2 separate regions of the Homo sapiens genome follow, and region 1 is linked to region 2. The links come from fine-mapping of genetic effects on gene expression. A gene starts in region 2. The other region holds a variant in brackets. All regions are shown on one strand. Distances are from middle to middle.

Evidence for each region.
Region 1: its variant is fine-mapped to the expression of VDAC1 in stomach (GTEx, PIP above 0.99).

Annotation. Positions count from the first base shown.
Region 1 is chr5:133,816,610-133,824,939 of GRCh38, reverse strand. It overlaps a transcript of FSTL4 not described here. Among named protein-coding and RNA genes, the nearest start is that of WSPAR, 93 kb to the left of the region's middle. RefSeq lists an enhancer at 71-120. The variant T/C (reference allele first, on the strand shown) is at 3,938.
Region 2 is chr5:134,001,041-134,009,370 of GRCh38, reverse strand. VDAC1 (voltage dependent anion channel 1) reads left to right here and starts at 4,396. Exons shown (of 9, transcript NM_003374.3): 1 at 4,396-4,476. RefSeq lists enhancers at 3,553-3,622, 3,663-3,722, 3,793-3,912, 5,563-5,612, 5,623-5,672 and silencers at 4,083-4,132, 4,173-4,232, 4,293-5,332.

The sequences.
Region 1 (8,330 bases), 180 kb after region 2:
CCTCTGAAGGGGATTCACGCTGTGATTTATTAACTTGTCTGTCTGTGGAGTTGGGTGTCTTGGTGGGAGTCCTGGACTCAGGTACCATTTAGCAACCTTGAGAGTTCAAAGGGCTCAGCCATTGGACATGGTATGTGGTGGTTTCCCGGTGCATGCCTGGCTCCACCTCTCCCCTGCTCAAGGATGCCTGCGTGCTTTGGGCAGGAAAAGCCAAACTTGGTTGCTTTGGCAACAGGGGTCTTGGTGAGAAGCTGGTACACAAGCAGGTGCTTCCAGTGTGCCAGAGAAAGGCACAGGGCCTTCTTCGCCCCGAGTCTTCTTACTTCTCTGATGGAGCTGAGTCATGCATCACCTCTTGTTTAATGGTGGTGAAATATACTCAGGTACTCTGATACTGTGAAATATACATTTGGTCTTCATCTCCCTTTCCTGGCAAGAGATCCTGAAGCCCTGGAATCTCTAGAGGGATATGAGTGTCTTTTGTCTGCTTCTGAGATGGCTGGTGGCCCCTAAATAGCCTCAGGATGGGGGCACATGCCTTGTTCTGTGGATCTCTTTCACCTGGATTAAACTGGTAAATGTAAGTAAAGCGTTTCCCTGAGTTCTGTGAGCTGCTATAGCAGATTAATCGAACCCAAGGAGGGGGCTGTGGGAACCCTCATTTATAGTGGGTCCATCAGAAGCATAGGTGGCAACCCACTATTTATGATTGGCATCTGGAGTGGGAGCAGTCCTGTGGGATCTGATGCTCTCTCCAGGTAGACAGTGTCAGAACTGAATTGAAGAAGAGGACACCCAGCTGGTGTCTGCTAGAGAATCACCTACAGAATTGCGTGGTGTGTGAGAAAACCCTCCCATGCATCTGGTGTCAGAAGTATTGTCTTGAGTGCCTGGGTGGTGTGGGGGTAGAGGGAAAAACACTTTGGTCTTTGTCCCGTCTCTTCAAAGGTATTTGTCTCAGAACACTAGAAGTGGCTTTCAAACATCTATCTAGCAGCAACATTCTTTAAAAAATTAAACCTTAGAAGGAAACTCAATATGTAAGACAAAGAAAAGGGGAGCTGTTCTGCAGCGGGGAGTTGCAGCCCTCCCATCTGGCCCTTTCTCCCCAGGGGCAGGCTGGCTTTGGAGGGGGCATGAGGACTTCCCCATGCCCCAGTTCCAGGGTATGCTGACCTTGGTCAGAAAGCCACCCAATCAGCCTCCTCATTTTACAACAGAGGGACTTGAGACAAGAGAGGGGAGTGGACTGGTCCATGTGTCCCAGCAGGCTCCTGGCCAAGCAGGACTCCCCTGGTTTCCAGCTTGGTGGAGGAGTGGGGAAGGAGACAGGGGCACTCTGTCCGGGACACCATACTGCCTCTCTGGGAGCTATTCTCAGACCTGCTGGGTGTTTGAGTCTCTGACATCCTGAGGATCTGGCTTCCAGTGAGATCTCCCCTCTGTGTGACAAGTCCCCTAAGACTGACTTTCAGACTAAGGCCTCATCACTCCCTCTGTCCAAGGGGGCCCAAACCAGCCCCTGGAGAGGAGGAGAGTGCAGGGCTGGGGAGAGATTCTGGGTACAGGGGCATGATTTGGGGCTGTGCTGAAGTCCTTTCCTGTGGAATGTAATTGTTGCTCAGGGGACCAGCAGGGCTGCTGTGGGACACCCTCTTCTGATGTTTTAATTTCAACTTATTTCCTGGGGTGCTGAAGCTACTTTTGAGAGGAGCTGATTGGGACCTATGAATGGCCCAGGAGCACCTGGTGGTGACCAGCTCTGGGCTCTGCTTTCTTTTCCTGTTTTGTTCTTGCCCATCCAGAAGTTCTTGACTTCTTGCCTTGAAGGTTTGTCTCCTGAACGCTATGGCACTTGATCACCTTCTAATGTACCATATGCTTTACCTGTTTACTTTGTCTATTGTTCATGGTCTGTTTCCATGCCCATGCCCCCAACCCCACCTCCTGCCCCCACATGAAAGCTACTCCAGGGCAGAGAGACTGTCTGATTTGTTCACTGCTGTAGTTTAGGTAAGATCTCTATGGATATTGTTAAAAGGACACATGAATAAATGAATCACATTTCCTTCCCACATATCTTCAGACTTCTGGCAGAATTACCTCTGGGAGGTAATTCTCTACTCTTTGTTTTTTGGTTTTGGGCTTCCTTTTGCATGGCGTTAGAGTTCGTGGGTCCGAAAAAGGATGTTTAATATCTGCTGAAGGACTAAAAACTATTTATTAAAGATGGGATTCATATTCTTGTTGAAATGTTGCCTTTCCAGGAGCATCGGTGCGTGTGCCTTTCCATGACGCCCCCGGAATGTTCACATCCTTAGCTTTCTGGCTTCACCAGGGACCCTCCCTGATTTCCCACGGCTCCACCCTCACCTTCCTTAGATTTCTGCAGTTTTAAAGTCTACTCTCCCATCTCAGTAATGAAGAAATAAACAATGGTTCTGTGTGTGACCCCTGATTTTAATTGGATTTCAGAGCAATTTTGAATGAATGAATGAAGTTTCTGGGCTCTGAGAATATGCTCTTCAAATAATGAGCTGAAACGATTACATTAATTTCCTAAGGATCTATTCCTTCCTCTGCTCAGATTATTTGCAGACACTGGTCAATGCTGCATATAAATTGAGGTCTCAAAAGGCTAACTTAACAATTAATCGGAAGCATCTCCAAGCCCCTAAAAATTGAAATAGCTCCACAAATGGAAGAGGAAATCTACCTTCAGAGACCTCTTGTTATTAAAGATGTGCACTTTGGATACATCAAGGGATTCTGGGGTGAACTCTGTTTATCAGGGTCCAGGGGGCGAGGAGTGTTCATACATCAAAGACATAATTCTAAGCATTTTGTCATATCAGCTTTTCTCTTTGTTCTTGCAATGCAGAGTCTTGGAGGCAAGTCATCTTTGTCACTCAAGAAGTGCAGGAGGTTTGATTGAGAAATATGCCTGAGTGTGACCCCCCAGGGTCACTTGTCTTCATTCTTCCCTTCTCACTGTGCCCCCGTTGGGCTCCCATAAGACCCTTGGCATCTGATCCTCCTGCCTTTTGTGTTCCTCCTCCTTGCACCGCTACGTTCCTGGCAACTGAATTTCCGACCAGTCTCCTTTTCTCTGGTATCTCACTCCTTGTCCTTTCTGAGCATGTTGCCTGGGGTCATAATTATCCTGCTCAAGAATCCTTAGTGACTCCCTAATAAACCCATGGGATGAAGTAGGAGCTCCTCCCTGCTGGCTTCTGGGCCCTGTTGGATCCAGTCCTGCGCCTCCTCCACAGTGCCCTCTTCCCTGTCCCCACATGTGCTCAACTCTCCACTTGAGCTGGAGTCTTCATAGCACCTCTCACCCCTGAGCACACACACTGCCAATTCCTGCCTCTGGACTCTTGTTCCCACTGTTTCTAGAGTGGCCCATGTTACTTATTGTCCCAATCAGGATTATTCTGGTAAGGAAAAGGGACACTGTTAATAATTAATGCTGGAACAGTGGGTGTAAATTGAATTGTCCCAGCAAGCCAGGACATGTGGTCACTGGGGCTGCGTCCTACCCCTGTTTGCTTTCACTTTTCATCTTCATTCTCCCTCCTGCTAAATTCAGCTTCTGTCTCTTTCATCCTTGATGGCTCATTTCCAGGGAGGGTCTGTCTTTAGCTCAGGCTGATCAAGAACCAGATGAGAAGGAAAACTTGACCTTTTGCTGAAGGCATGATGTTAGCATGAAACCCTCAAGAAATTCTGTGACTAATCAGAAGAATATTATTTTTTCTAAAGAAAGGGTCTTCTTCCTTTAATCAGTATTTTTACAATTTAATAATTTCTTTCTTTCCTTACCTCCTTGTGGACTTTTCAAAGCTTGGCAACAGCCTATGAGATAGTTTGTATTAAGCTTTTAAAGGGATACATTATAACAAGTTTTCAGAAAATGTATAGTTTTCAAACACAA[T/C]CAATGTTTTCTTGTATAACTTCCCTTCAAATCCGAAACATCTCCTATTACCACCCTTTTCTGAAAATAGCAGCTTATTTATTAGAATACACTATCAATAACATACATTGCATTGTTTTCTAATAGTTTAATGTATCTTTTTTCCCTCCAACAAGTTGAGAAGTCCCCAGGGAGAGGATATAAGATATTACATGTCTTGGTTCTTCCTTGGTCCCTAGCTCAGGGCTGGCCACAAACAGTTGGTTTCTGCTCTTCAGTTGCCTGCAAGAGTAAGTGAAACATGAAGCCTAAATTCCAACACTTACGAAAGCTAAAGCTGCACTTGACTCCGGGTTTGGCGAATGTTGCAGAGTTGGGAGCCTGTCACATTGTTCTTCCTGTAAAGTAACTATTTTCTCTCTGTTGTACAGAGGATAGCAAACACTGCAATGTATAAATCACAGACATGAAATTGAAAGACCATGTACATGATCCACAGAGAAAAATATACATAAGTGGAGTAGGGAATAAGGAGGTTATGCGGGTACCAGACAAGCCTCTGGTTTCAAGGGTGCTTCCCTCCCAAAGGGAAGAAAAACAATGTTGTAACCAGGAAGAATGTGCCCTCACAGCTGATGGCACTATAATAGCATAAACAATGACAAGTTCCATAAACGTCACAAATGTGGGAATTTGCCTTGAAGTTCCTTCTGGGATCTAATTTAAAGGCACATCTTGTTGAAACGGAGGTCATGAGGGAAGCAGAAATAAGTGGAGAGAAATGCAGCGTGACAGCTGGACCCTCCCAGCCGGCCCGGGGAAGCTGTGCTGCTCTGTGGGGAAGGACTTCTGGGGGAGGAGGCATGGGTGGAAAGGGGCCCTGGAGGACACAGGCCTCTGCGACTGCAACCCCTCAGGCCTGCTGACACGAGGCACTGCAGAACCTGCGCCGTGCCGTGCTGGGAAGAGGATTTGGAGCAAGAAGACCCAAGTTTGAGTCTTCCTTCTGCCGTTTTCTATAGTTGTGTGACCTTGAGCAAGTCAGTGTACCTATGAGCGGCCACCTCCTCATGTGAAAAATGGAGCTGAAACTAATGCCCGATGGGGCTGCTGTGAGGACTAAACGCAGCAGCCCCATCTCCAAGGGCAGGGAGGGTGGCTGCCACACTGTCATTTGATTAACAAGGAGGTGCTGGCCAGGAGCAGTTGATGTGGAGGTCCCTCAGCCTGAATATTCTTTATGTGCAAGGCTTCATTCAGGATTTTAGTTTTTGAAAAACAGACTATTCCTTTTCTTCTTTAAAATCAGAATTGGAAATTTGAATGTGGAAACAGGAGGTCTCATCTGGAACAATGCGTGGGCAGCCCGGTTTCATCTTGATCTGTGGATGTATTGTGAATTTCTCGGGTCACCTAAACCTGCCTGCGCCTCCAACGGTGCTATGAGTTTAGCAAGTGAAGAGCACACAAACAGATGCTTAAATTATAGCCTACAGTTCAGTGCACCCCTCAGGCTGAGTGTCGTTGCACAGAGAGGGTGAAGAGCCTTGTGCGGGTTCCAGGAGGTCAGAGAGGCTCCTGAGAGCTCAGCAATGACACCTCCATGCTTCTCAGCCACTGAGCAGAGTGGAGGAGCAGGGTGTGAGCAGGGAGCAGACAGAGGCTTGGTGGTCCGGGCATTCCTGAAACCTGCATCTAAAAACTCAGAAGGGAAGGCTTCCTCCCAAGGGCCCTGCACCCAAAAGCTGTTCCTGTCCCTTGCCCAGGCTGGGAGAGACAGAGGGCATGCCTGTTTATTTTCAAAGTGAAGTTGACTTCACTTTCTTGTTCTAGGTGGTTCTTATTTTAGCTGAACCTTGTGCAGTCTCTCTCCAGGGTTGGAGGGAAGTGTTTCATGTGTACGCAAGGCAGGGAAACAGCAGGTTCCGACCCAGCATTGAGAAAGGATTGGGGAAGCTATGTGTGTGGGCGGTGGGCATGTGGGTGGACGGCTGGGCAGATCTCCTTCGTTCTAGAAATTCTGCTGATCTTCCTGGAAATTGTGTGTGTGTGCATGCGTACGTGTGTGTGTGTGTACATATATATATATATAGTATCTTCTAAAACATCTTCTCCTGGACTTTGTTGGAAGAGAAGGGCTGGGTGGGGGGCTTTAAGCTGAGTCCTTGTCTGAGATGAGTGAGGTTCTTTTGTGCTCAGAACTGTGGTACAATTCATCCTCAAAAAGGAATCTGAATTGAAAGGGGATTTGGTGTGAGGCAGGGGAAGGTGTAGGGGTGCATAGATCTGTTCATTAGGGCAGATTAAAGTCAAGCCTCCCCTGAAATTGGTGGAAAGTGCTTGCAGCCCTCTGTGGTTTGGAAGATTATGCAGCTATCACAATGCACTTCGTGAGTAGGCTGTGGGGGCTGGATTTAATTTTATGTCCGCCGGGAGATTCTGGCAGTGTGTTTCTGTGGTGGGGAATCATTATTTACAATGAAACACTTACACAGAAGTAGTAAAGTTAATGGAGGTTTCAGTGGAATTAGCCTTGTTAAGTTCCCCAGTGACACAGCCGGCTCCCCTCTCCAGTAGCTGGATCCAGCAAGGAGGCAGCACACAGAGCTAGTGGAGTTTAGGATGTGGATGAAATTGGGAGTGACCCAAAGCAGCAAGACCCAGGCCTTCAGTACTGGCCTGCAGCTGGGCTCTGTGATGGGGCTGCTTCTCTGGCCAACAGCCCCTGCATGGCCATGCTGTGTGTTCCCAGTCCTGGCAGCTCCTTGCAGAGTAAATGCTGTTAATCCACGGCCCATTGTTGACTCTTGCTGCTGCTATCAGAATTTCTGGGACCTGGAGCATGCTGAGGGCTGTGATGAGGTAAGATGTGATTCATCCCCGTGCTCACGTTCCCTAAAGGGGTGACAAGGCTGCACCACGTGGAAGGAGAGTCATTCAGGTGGGCCACATGCCATGAGATTCTTGGATCGAAGTTCTCTTGGATAAGGTTGCCATGTTTACTCCCAGTTCCCTGGCTTAGGAGCCAGGCAGATATGGGTTTGAATCCAGATTCTACTGGATGACCTTGAACATGTCATGTGTATTCTCAAGATTCATTTTCTTTATCTTTAAAATGGGGCCACTGTTTTTGCTGGCATCATAGGTTGTTAGGAGGATGATGTGACTTAGGGTATGGAAAGCACTTAGTACTGTGCCAGGTCATGCTGTTTCTTTATTCTCTGTCCCAGCTTTCACCTGCCCCTCCATACTCTGTATTTCTGGGCCAGAACACCCACAGACTGCATTTTCTGGGCTCCCTTTCCAGGTGGCTCCCTGCCAAGTTCTGCCCATGGGAGGTCAGAGGGCTGGAAGAGAGAAGAGCCTTCCTTCTTCCTCATTCTCTTGCTCTTTGTCTTCTTCTTCTAGGGGTGTCTCCGAGGCAGGGGCAGCTGTGGCCCTTCCTCCATGCTGCCAGCTCCTGGGACAGAAGCCGGTCCTCTTACACTTCAGGTCTAGGTCACATTATCTCTTGCCTTTGTGACTCCCAGCCCTTGGGGAGATATTGGCTTCCTGCATTACCTAATCTTTGGTCACCCTATCTTCCTTCTTACTGTCACCACACCTGGTAAGCAATTCACTATGTGAAAGCTCCTCTATTTGAAGGACCTAGAATGGCTTCTGTTTCCTTGACCGGACTGTGACTGATACAGTGGAACTCCCATTAGTTATAACAAGTGCATGGCCTTGGAGTCAGACAAGACAAGGTTTGCACACCCTGGCTCCACTCCTTACTTGCAGTGTGACCTGAGCCTCTGTGTTTGCATCCATTAAATGGGGACGATAATAGACTCAGCTTCGCAGGGCTGTCGCGAGGATTTAAAAAGATAACAATAGAAGTGAAAAGCTTAACACAGCGGGGTAGTGAACATCAACACATGAGAGTTTGTTTCTAGATGTGTGTGTTGCTTTCTCAGGTTGGCCCAGGAGTGTTGGGGATGCCACTGGGAAGGGCAAGTGAGGCAGTGGGCCTGGGCCTGGGTATCTGTGGGCAGCAAGGAGCCATGGGAGGCTTGAATGGGGGCTGCCTGGAGTACAGCAGTCTTTACACCCCTGATCTCCCTGCCGCTTCCTCCCAGTTTGGTTCAGAGCTTCAGCTAAGCAGCAGAGGCTAGGCCCTCCCTGGGGCCACCTGGTGCCATGACTTTTTCCCCAAGTCTCCAGAGCTCAGGTAAGAGAGGAAGGGTCAGTGCCTCAATCTGAAGAGTTGCTGGCAGTGTGGCTTTTAAAATCTACTTATTCATTTCACCTAATTAGCCAATGACCTCAAACAAACCTATAATGTTATTTTCCCCTCAGAATGACACTCGTGGGGTTTGGAGAGCTACAATATTTTATCTGTTACTCAATGGCCAAACCTCTCAGCACTTGCTCG
Region 2 (8,330 bases):
AGAATTGCTTGAACCAGGACCTGGGAGGCGGAGGTTGCAGTGAGCCAAGATCATGCCACCGTACTCCAGCCTGGGCTACAGAGAGAGACTCCATCTCAAAAAAAAAAAAAAAAAAAAAAAAAAGAATTGATAAATTCCCATAAATACTTCATTAATACTTAATACATTTCTTTCCAATATTTGTCTCTCTGTGTATATATATACAAAATTCTTAAAAATCATAGCTATGATGTTGGAGCTTCTTGGAATTGTTTTAGATTAGATCTAGGACACCTCATGTTTTGGGATATGCAGGAGAATATTATCAATTGTGTTTACCTTGGGATGCTTTCTGTCCTGTTTCCCCAAGAGATTACTGCTGTCACTCAGAACCTGGAGGCCCAGCTGGGTCCTTCCCTGGATGCTGAGTGTCAGGGCACAGTGTGGGGAGTGTGGCCTGAGATCCTTGACCACAAACACGCCATCTTGATTCTTCCTACCCAGACTCTAGTCTGAGGAGTTCACTGGAAAATGATTGGAAAGTTAGGTTTTATGACAATGCAACTTTATAATCCAATTAATTGATGCTGGTTACAAGCAGAATATCTTTCTCTTTAAAAATTAATTTACATAAATGACTACCATTTCTGCCTTCATGAACTTCATCTTCAAGCTCTGGTACTTAGCACAGACAATGCTAAGAAACCACATAGAAATCCAGGGACATCTGGCTCTGAAAAGAGAAGAGTTGGGAGTGTTTCATCCTATGTTCTTGAAAGGGGGGTGGAATAGGTTTATGATTCTGATCATAAATTGGCTGCTTTCCACTTTGATAAATATCTACAGTAGAAGCCCTAAGGCTGTAAGTTAGAGATAAGACAAAAACCAAAAACTCCCTAAAATGAAATAGTCTTACATTGGTAACCCATTCCAATATTAACAATGAAAGAAAAATCTCATTTTCCCTGGATGTTTTACATTGTTCTTCTTGAATGGAGGAGAGGAACTGAGTTAGCATCTGGAAGAAAACAATCCAAACTGGACTAGGCAAAACAGGAGGCCGTTGGCTCAGGCAGCTGGTAAGTACAGGGTGTAGTCTCCGGCATGGCTAGATTCAGGACCTCATCTCTGCCTTTCTCTTATGGGCTTACTTCATTTTCAGGGAGTCTTTATTCCTGTAGCCCCAGGAATTCTCATCTGGTCTCATTGGTCCATCCCTGCGGGGCGGGGATCGGGGGCGGTGGGAGGCCAGGATGTGGGGGCGGAGAGGCGGGGGCAGGAGAGGTATACAGGGCTCTAATTGGTCAGACTGGGCCATGTGGCCACTCCCAGGAAGGCTTTGGAGTCAGGGATGGAGTCAGCTCCATGAAAGCTTGCTGACCAAAAGGAGAGGGAAACAGGGTCATTCGCCCAGAGAAAAACTGAGGTTAGGATTGTCCTGTCCCCACAAACCTCCTTCTCCACCCACCAAGATTTGACTGTCTTCGCCAGGGACTTGCTCTAGCTGGGTCAAGCTCAAGTGGGGTTATTGAAGTGGAACAGGGAAACCCACGCATGGCAAGAACAGGGGGGCACTCAAGGAACAGGGGCCCAGAGCCACCCTCTGCAGCGGCTGCTCCATTCTCTGTTCTGTGAAAAGCCCTCGTTAACTTCGCAACACCGACAGGGATGCCAGACCCAGGTCTCCCCAAGGGCCTTGAAAGCTCCCGCATTTTCCCCTCTGCCATACTCATCCCTGGGTTTCTCAGTTCAGGTTTGCAAGAGAGGATCTGATTGACCTGGCTTGGGTCAGGGGCCCAACCCTGACCCAATCAGCTGTGGCAGATGGAATGGAGGTGGGGCTCAGGGGGTTTCCCCTCTCCCTCAGGGTTGTGGTGGGTCAATGGATTCTAGTGATTATGGCACCTGCAGATCTCAGCTGATTTTGTTTTTTAAAAAATTACTAATACTATTTCTTGAGACGGGAACTTGCTCTGTGGTCCAGGCTGGAGTGCAGTAGTGGGATGCTAGCTCACTGCACCCTCGAACTCCTGGCCTCAAGCCATCCTACCTCCTTGGCCTCCCAAACAGTTGGGATTACCCACATGTGCCTCTGAGCCTGGCCCAGTTACTGATGAGTGCCTACTCTTTTTTCTTTTTTTTTTTTTTTGGCAGAGTTTCGCTCTTGTTGCCCAGACTGGAGTGTGATGGTGAGATCTTAGCTCACCGCAACCTCCGCCTCCTGGGTTCAAGCAATTCTCCTGCCTTAGCTTCACGAGTAGCTGGGATTATAGGCATGTGCCACCATGCCCGGCTAATTTTTGTATTTTTAGTAGAGACGGGGTTTCTCCATGTTGGTAAGGCTGGTCTCGAACTCCCGACCTCAGGTGATCCAGCCGCCTCAGCCTCCCAAAGTGCTGGGATTACAGGAGTGAGCCACTGCACGGGGCCGAGTGCCTACTCTTTATGTGTCCCATTTTAAACTTACACCAACACTCTGAAGCTGAGGCTCTTAGAGGCCAGCCTTCTTGCCTGGGTCACGCAGCCACTAAGTGAGTGGTTAATCTGAAACTAGCACCTAGGGGAGCTGGCGAAGGGGCCCAGGGTAGCAGAGGCCATGAAGAACTCTTTCCAAGTTGTTGTTTTTTTTTGTTTTTTTTTTTTGGGGGGGGGGGACAATGTCACTCTGTCAGTCAGGCTGGAGTACAGCGGCTCAATCTCAGCTGACTCCAGCCTCCTCCTTCCAAGTTCAAGCGATTCTCGTGCCTCAGCCTCCTGAGTAGCTGGGACTACAGGCGCGCGCCACCACGCCCGTCTAGTTTTTGTATTTTTAGTAGAGACAGGGTTTTGCCATGTTGCCCAGGCTGGTCTCGAAGTCCTGGCCTCAAGTGATCTGCCTGTCTCGGCCTCCCAAAGTACTAGGATTACAGGCTTGAGCCACTGCACCCGGCCCAGATTGGTTCTTTAAAGCGGAGTTGAGAGGTGGCGCTGGAGGGGAGGAAGCCCTTCGACATTTGCTCCCAGCCTCAAAACTGGGTTGCACCGGCATCTGTTCCTAGCCCTGTGGGGTTCCTGGAGCCCCGCCTTGTCCCGCCCGGCCTCCCTGAGTTCTTGTCCTCCCCCTGCCCACCAGTCTCAGTGTGCGGGGTGGGGACCACCAGGCTGGGAAGCCCAGAGTTCCCAGGCAACTCGTGCGCCTGGGAGGGTCATAGAATCCGTCCTACACTCCTCAGGATCTTGAAGGGGGCTCTTCCTTACATTCCCAGTCACCCCTCCCCCAGCCCCTACACAGGGCCTAGGTAACCTGTCTGCACCCCACTCCCACTCTGTATCAGCTGCCCTCTTCCTCAGCACCCTATCCCACTGGAGCACCTTTTCCAACTCCAGTCGCCACTTTTAATCTGCCGCCTTTTCCCAGCAGCCAGTCCTGATTGCCTCCTCCGTAGCCCCAGTTGCCCACTGCTTTAGATAGTGTCGCAGCTGGCTGTGAGGAGTGTCCTGATTCTGTAACCCGGCACCTCCTCCACAGGGCCCTAGACGCCTCAAGCCTTCCAGGACGTTTGTTGATCAAAGGCGAAGGATGTGTAGAATCTTCGTCCATCTACGAATTAATTCTCGAAACCTGCTTCGAGTGGGCCTCGCGCGTAACACAGGGGACACTCAGTGGTGAACGAGACCACTCGCTTAGGCCTAGCAGCGAGGTGACCGTTCACTCAACACACACTAACTGGGTCCCGCAGGACACGCCCCGGCTGGTCGCGGGGGTTACCCGGGGTGCCCTCAGTCGGCCGGCCGGCCATAACCGGCGTGATCTCCTCGCGCCGAGAGACCCAGCAGGGACCTCGCAAAACCCAATCCACGTTTTGTTTTATTTTGTCTTTTTGCCTCTCAAATGCATGGAAATTGGCTGCTAGTAGCTTTGCTACAGGAGAAAATCGCTAATCTGTAGTGCAAAATCGGCGCACAGGGGTTTTCTCTGAGATTGTCTAGACGCCGCGCGGGCGGGTCGGAGGCGCCAGACACATTGTATCCGGAGCGCGGAGCTCGGGAGCAACAGTCGCCGCCTCTACTCTGTATCTGCGCCGCCCCAGGCGCCCAGTGTCCGCGCTGGGCCTGGGACTGCCCTCGGGGGATGGGGCCCACGCGGGCTTTGATGGGGGGCCGGGGGCCACTTTGTCCACCCAGGCGAGGCTTGGGTCCAGCGCCGGCCACATCAACTCCCGGGGGATCTAGCAGCGCGGAGGCCAAGCAGGAGGCCCAGGAGCCCCGCGCGTCTTCCATTAGCGCAGGGACCTCCGGGCCACAGCTCAGAGAATCGGAAGGCCTCCTCCCCCTTCCCGAGCGCTGCCACTGGGGCCGAGGTTTCCAGCAAGAACCCGCGTGTCCCTGCGCACGCACACACGGTGCACACGTCAGTCCGGCGCCTCCCCGTGCCCCGACTCACGCAGGTCCTCCCGCGCGCCCGCAACACGCCCGCAGGCTCCTGTGTCTGCTGCCGGGGCAGCGGGGCCCGGAAGGGTAAGAACGCGGCTCGCTAGCGGGATGGGGACCCTGGCCCGGCCTGGACGCTGTCCCGGGCGGGGCCTGGGGGCGGAGCGCGCCGGGCCGGGCGCGCAGGAGGGGAGGCGGGTCCGCGCCGCCGCCGTCCGCGCCGCCCCGCCCTTGGCCCAGCCGCTCGCTCGGCTCCGCTCCCTGGCTCGGCTCCCTGCCTCCGCGTCGCAGCCCCCGCCGTAGCCGCCTCCGAGCCCGCCGCCACATCCTCTGAGGTAGGCGCAGCGGAAAAGGACCCCGGCTTCCTTGCGCCCTGGACGGCGGGGGCCAGGCCCCTGGGGAGCTGAGAGGGAGGCGCTGAGGGAGGAGCGGGCGAGGGGCCCCGGCAGCCCGGCCGCGGGGAGGGATCGCGAGCGGCCGGCGCGGGCCTGGCTGGTGAGCGGGCGGGCAGAGAAGGCCGCACAGGCGGGTGCCGAACAGGTCTGGGCTGGGGAGCGCGAGGCCGAGGGTCCAGAGACGCCTGCGGCTGGCGGCGAGAGGCGGCCCGGGCTTGCGGGCGGAAGTGCAAGGGCGGCCGCGTGGAGGCCCGGCGGGCCGCGCGTCTAGGTGACCTTCCCCGGCGGCGCCCTCTGGCCCTGGATCCCACCAGCGTGCATCCGGCGGGGACCCGTTCGCCGCCCACGCTCGCCGGACCAGGCCAGCGGGCGGGTGCCGGCCACGCTGCCGCCTCGGGGATGAGCTCACGTGACGACCGTGGCCCCGAGTCCCCAGGCCCACGCGCCCTGGCCGGCCCACGCCCGCAGAAGCTGGCGCCCGGCACCGCCCGCCTGTGCCAGAGCCTTCTAGAGCGGAACGCGCCGGCCGAGAGTCGACTTAGGCGGTAGAGGCCGGAGCTCGGGCCTGGGCTGAAGGTTTGGCCTCGGAAAAGGAGGCCCCACGGGGAAGGATGTGGCCTTCTTGGTCTTAGGAGTGATTACTGGTTCGGTCGTTCATTCATTCGCCAAATGCGGCGGTGCATTCTGGAAACTGTTTCGGAGCCTGACTTTGGATTAGAGGCCCGCAGTCTTAGTGGTTTGTACAAGGTCACACAGCTGGGAAGTCCCCATACCTTCGTTTTCTCATCTATAGGACGGGAGCAATTGTACCTCTCCTTCGATGAGTTTTGGGGAATAATAAAATGAATTAATTAGCATGAAACCTTTAGAACAGTGCCGGTGTGGAGAAGGGCTAAGTAGAAACCCTGACACCCTTGGGGCTTTTTGGGTGAATCCAGCCCATCCCCCGCAGACCATTTTGCTACACGTGGCGTTGTGGAAGGGGTTCAATAAATGTAGCTCCTGTTTTTAAACATTCTTTCACTATTATTGACAAGCATTTGTATACCAGGTATTGAGTAACTTTCAGCTTAATTTATGAAAAATCTTGTAAGTTTACAAATGGACATTGTCAAGCTGGAGCAGTAAGTTTGCATGTGGAGATCTTGAATGCAGGAGCAGACCCTGGTTTAGAGCCCGTTCCGCCCGGGGTCCCTGTCCCCTTGACTAGCCTCCCCTCTCCTGGGGAGATAGGGGAAAGGGCTCCTCTGTTGCCTAAACTTCTCCACTGAGGCAGGAGAAGGCCAGAGCAGACTACCGAGGGCCAGCCTTCATTCTGCCCACCCCAGCTCTGGACCAACTCAGCTCCTAAGGGTCAGACTGAGGCACTGAGGCCCTGTGCTACTTTGTCTTCAGTGCCTGGGGTGGTGCTGCCTGGCACACAGTAGGTGCTTGAGAAGGGTCTGTGGGGGTAAATGCACTCTTGTGTCAGAATCCACCCATCTTTACTGACAGAGTTTTACTATTCCAGTACATGGCCCATAGTAGGTGCTTATTGAGTATTTGTGGAATTATTGAATGGGCATATGAAGGGCTGCAGGCCCAGACCATAGTCCTTTGATCCTGGACTTTTTTTTTTTTTGAGACAGGGTCTTGCTCTGTTGCCAGGTCTGGAGCGCGGTGGCACCATAACGGCTCATGGCAGCTTCTGTTTCCTGGGTTCAGGCAATCCTCCCACCTCAGCCTCACAGAGTATCTGGGATCCCAGGCACACACCACCACGCCTGGCTAATTTTTGTATTTTTAGTAGAGTCGGGGTTTCACCATGTTTGCCAGGCTGATCTCAAACTCCTGGCCTCAAGCAATCCACCCGCCTCCGCCTCCCAAAGTGCTGGGATTACACGCGTGAGCCACCATGCCCGGTCCTGGACATCCTTTTGAGGGACACAGACATCTCACTTGTGGAAAACAGCCTCACCTAGCAGAGAGTCACAAATATTTAAAGAACTGTAACAGTATGTATAGTCTCTTGAAATAAGTGCTTTAAACACATCGTCTTCATTCTCTGGTTTTCCAAGTCCCGAGGGAAACTTGTTGAACTGGTGTTTCTGGGCTTGCAGGGAGGGTGACATGGGTGACTGGGATTCTACAGAAGGTGTTGGGCCTGTTACCCCTTCCCTCATGGTGGGTGGATGGACAGCTTGTGCTGGGGTTGTCCTGAGTAGGGTGCCTGCCTGTGGGTAGTGGGGACTACTCCTTGTTGATTATTTAGTTTTATTTTTGCTATTCTAGAGTGGGGCTATAGGCAGGGGTTATTCGTAGCTCAGAAAGTGGGGGACCATACAGGGATGAGGTGCCTGTGGGCCCCTGGCCTTGCTGAACACTAGGCAGGTGTGGACAGTGAACTCCATGCTGGGGAGGTGAAGGGCATCCAACCTCTACCCTTACCAGGAAGATGCTCCTGAAGCACTGAAGTCCACTTCGCCTTTGATGGAATTTCCCGTGGTGTAGTGTCTTCGGTGGTAGTGACTGGAAGAGGCGCATGTGTGGTTGAGGACCAGCCGAAGCTTGGAGGCAGCCCCTCCTGGTGCTCAGAGATTCTGTAGTCTGCGGCTTTGGGTTTTCCATGGAGTCCTGTGGTAGCCACTGAGAAAAGTTGACCAGTGGGCTCCTCAGCTGGGTCTGGGCGCATTTCTCCATTTTACCACGTACTCAGGGGGTTTGGGATGAGTGGGACTTTAAGTTCTTTACTCAGAACTGTGCTGGAAAGAGCACTGGAGAGTAGCTTAGGCCCATAACACAGGTCTGGTGAGCCATAGGGTCGGTCTCATACAGGTCAAGTCACTGTCTTGTGCCTCAGTTTCTCTCTCTCTTTTTTTTTTTTTTTTTTTTAGATGGAGTCTCACTCTGTTGCCCAGGCTGGAGTGCAGTGGTGCAATCTCGGCTCCCTGCAATCTCTACCTCTCGGGTTCAAGCAAGTCTCTGCCTCACCCTCTCGAGTAGCCGGGATTACAGGCGCCTGCCACCATGCCTGGCTAATTTTTTTGTATTTTTTAGTAGAGATGGGGTTTCACCATCTTGGCCAGGTTGGTCTTGAACTCCTGACCTCCTGATCCACCCGCCTCGGCCTCCTAAAGTGCGGGGATTGCAGGTGTGAGCCACTGAGCCCGGCCGAGTTTGTCTGCTATAAAAGTATGATTGTCGTCATTACAGTGATTGCTGATTGAGGGCTTGCTCAGCACCTTTCTGGGGGCTCAACGAATGTTCTGTGATGTTGAGTTCACCACCCTATACCCTGGGAGAGAGATAGTGTGTTTCCATTTCACAGGTCAGCAGACTCGAGCACAGAGAGGTGAGGTAACACAGCCTGGCAGGAGTGGAGTTGGGATTCAAGGCCTGGTCTGAATGGTGGTGCTCTCACATTGCAGTTGCACTCCAAGGGACCCTTGCAAGGTGCTAACAGATGTGAATGCCTTTTGGAAAGTCAAAATTGGTGTTCAGATGGGAGACATTATTTTTCCACACCAGTCAGAGTGAACTTGTGCATGGCTGTGTGCGGGCCAACTG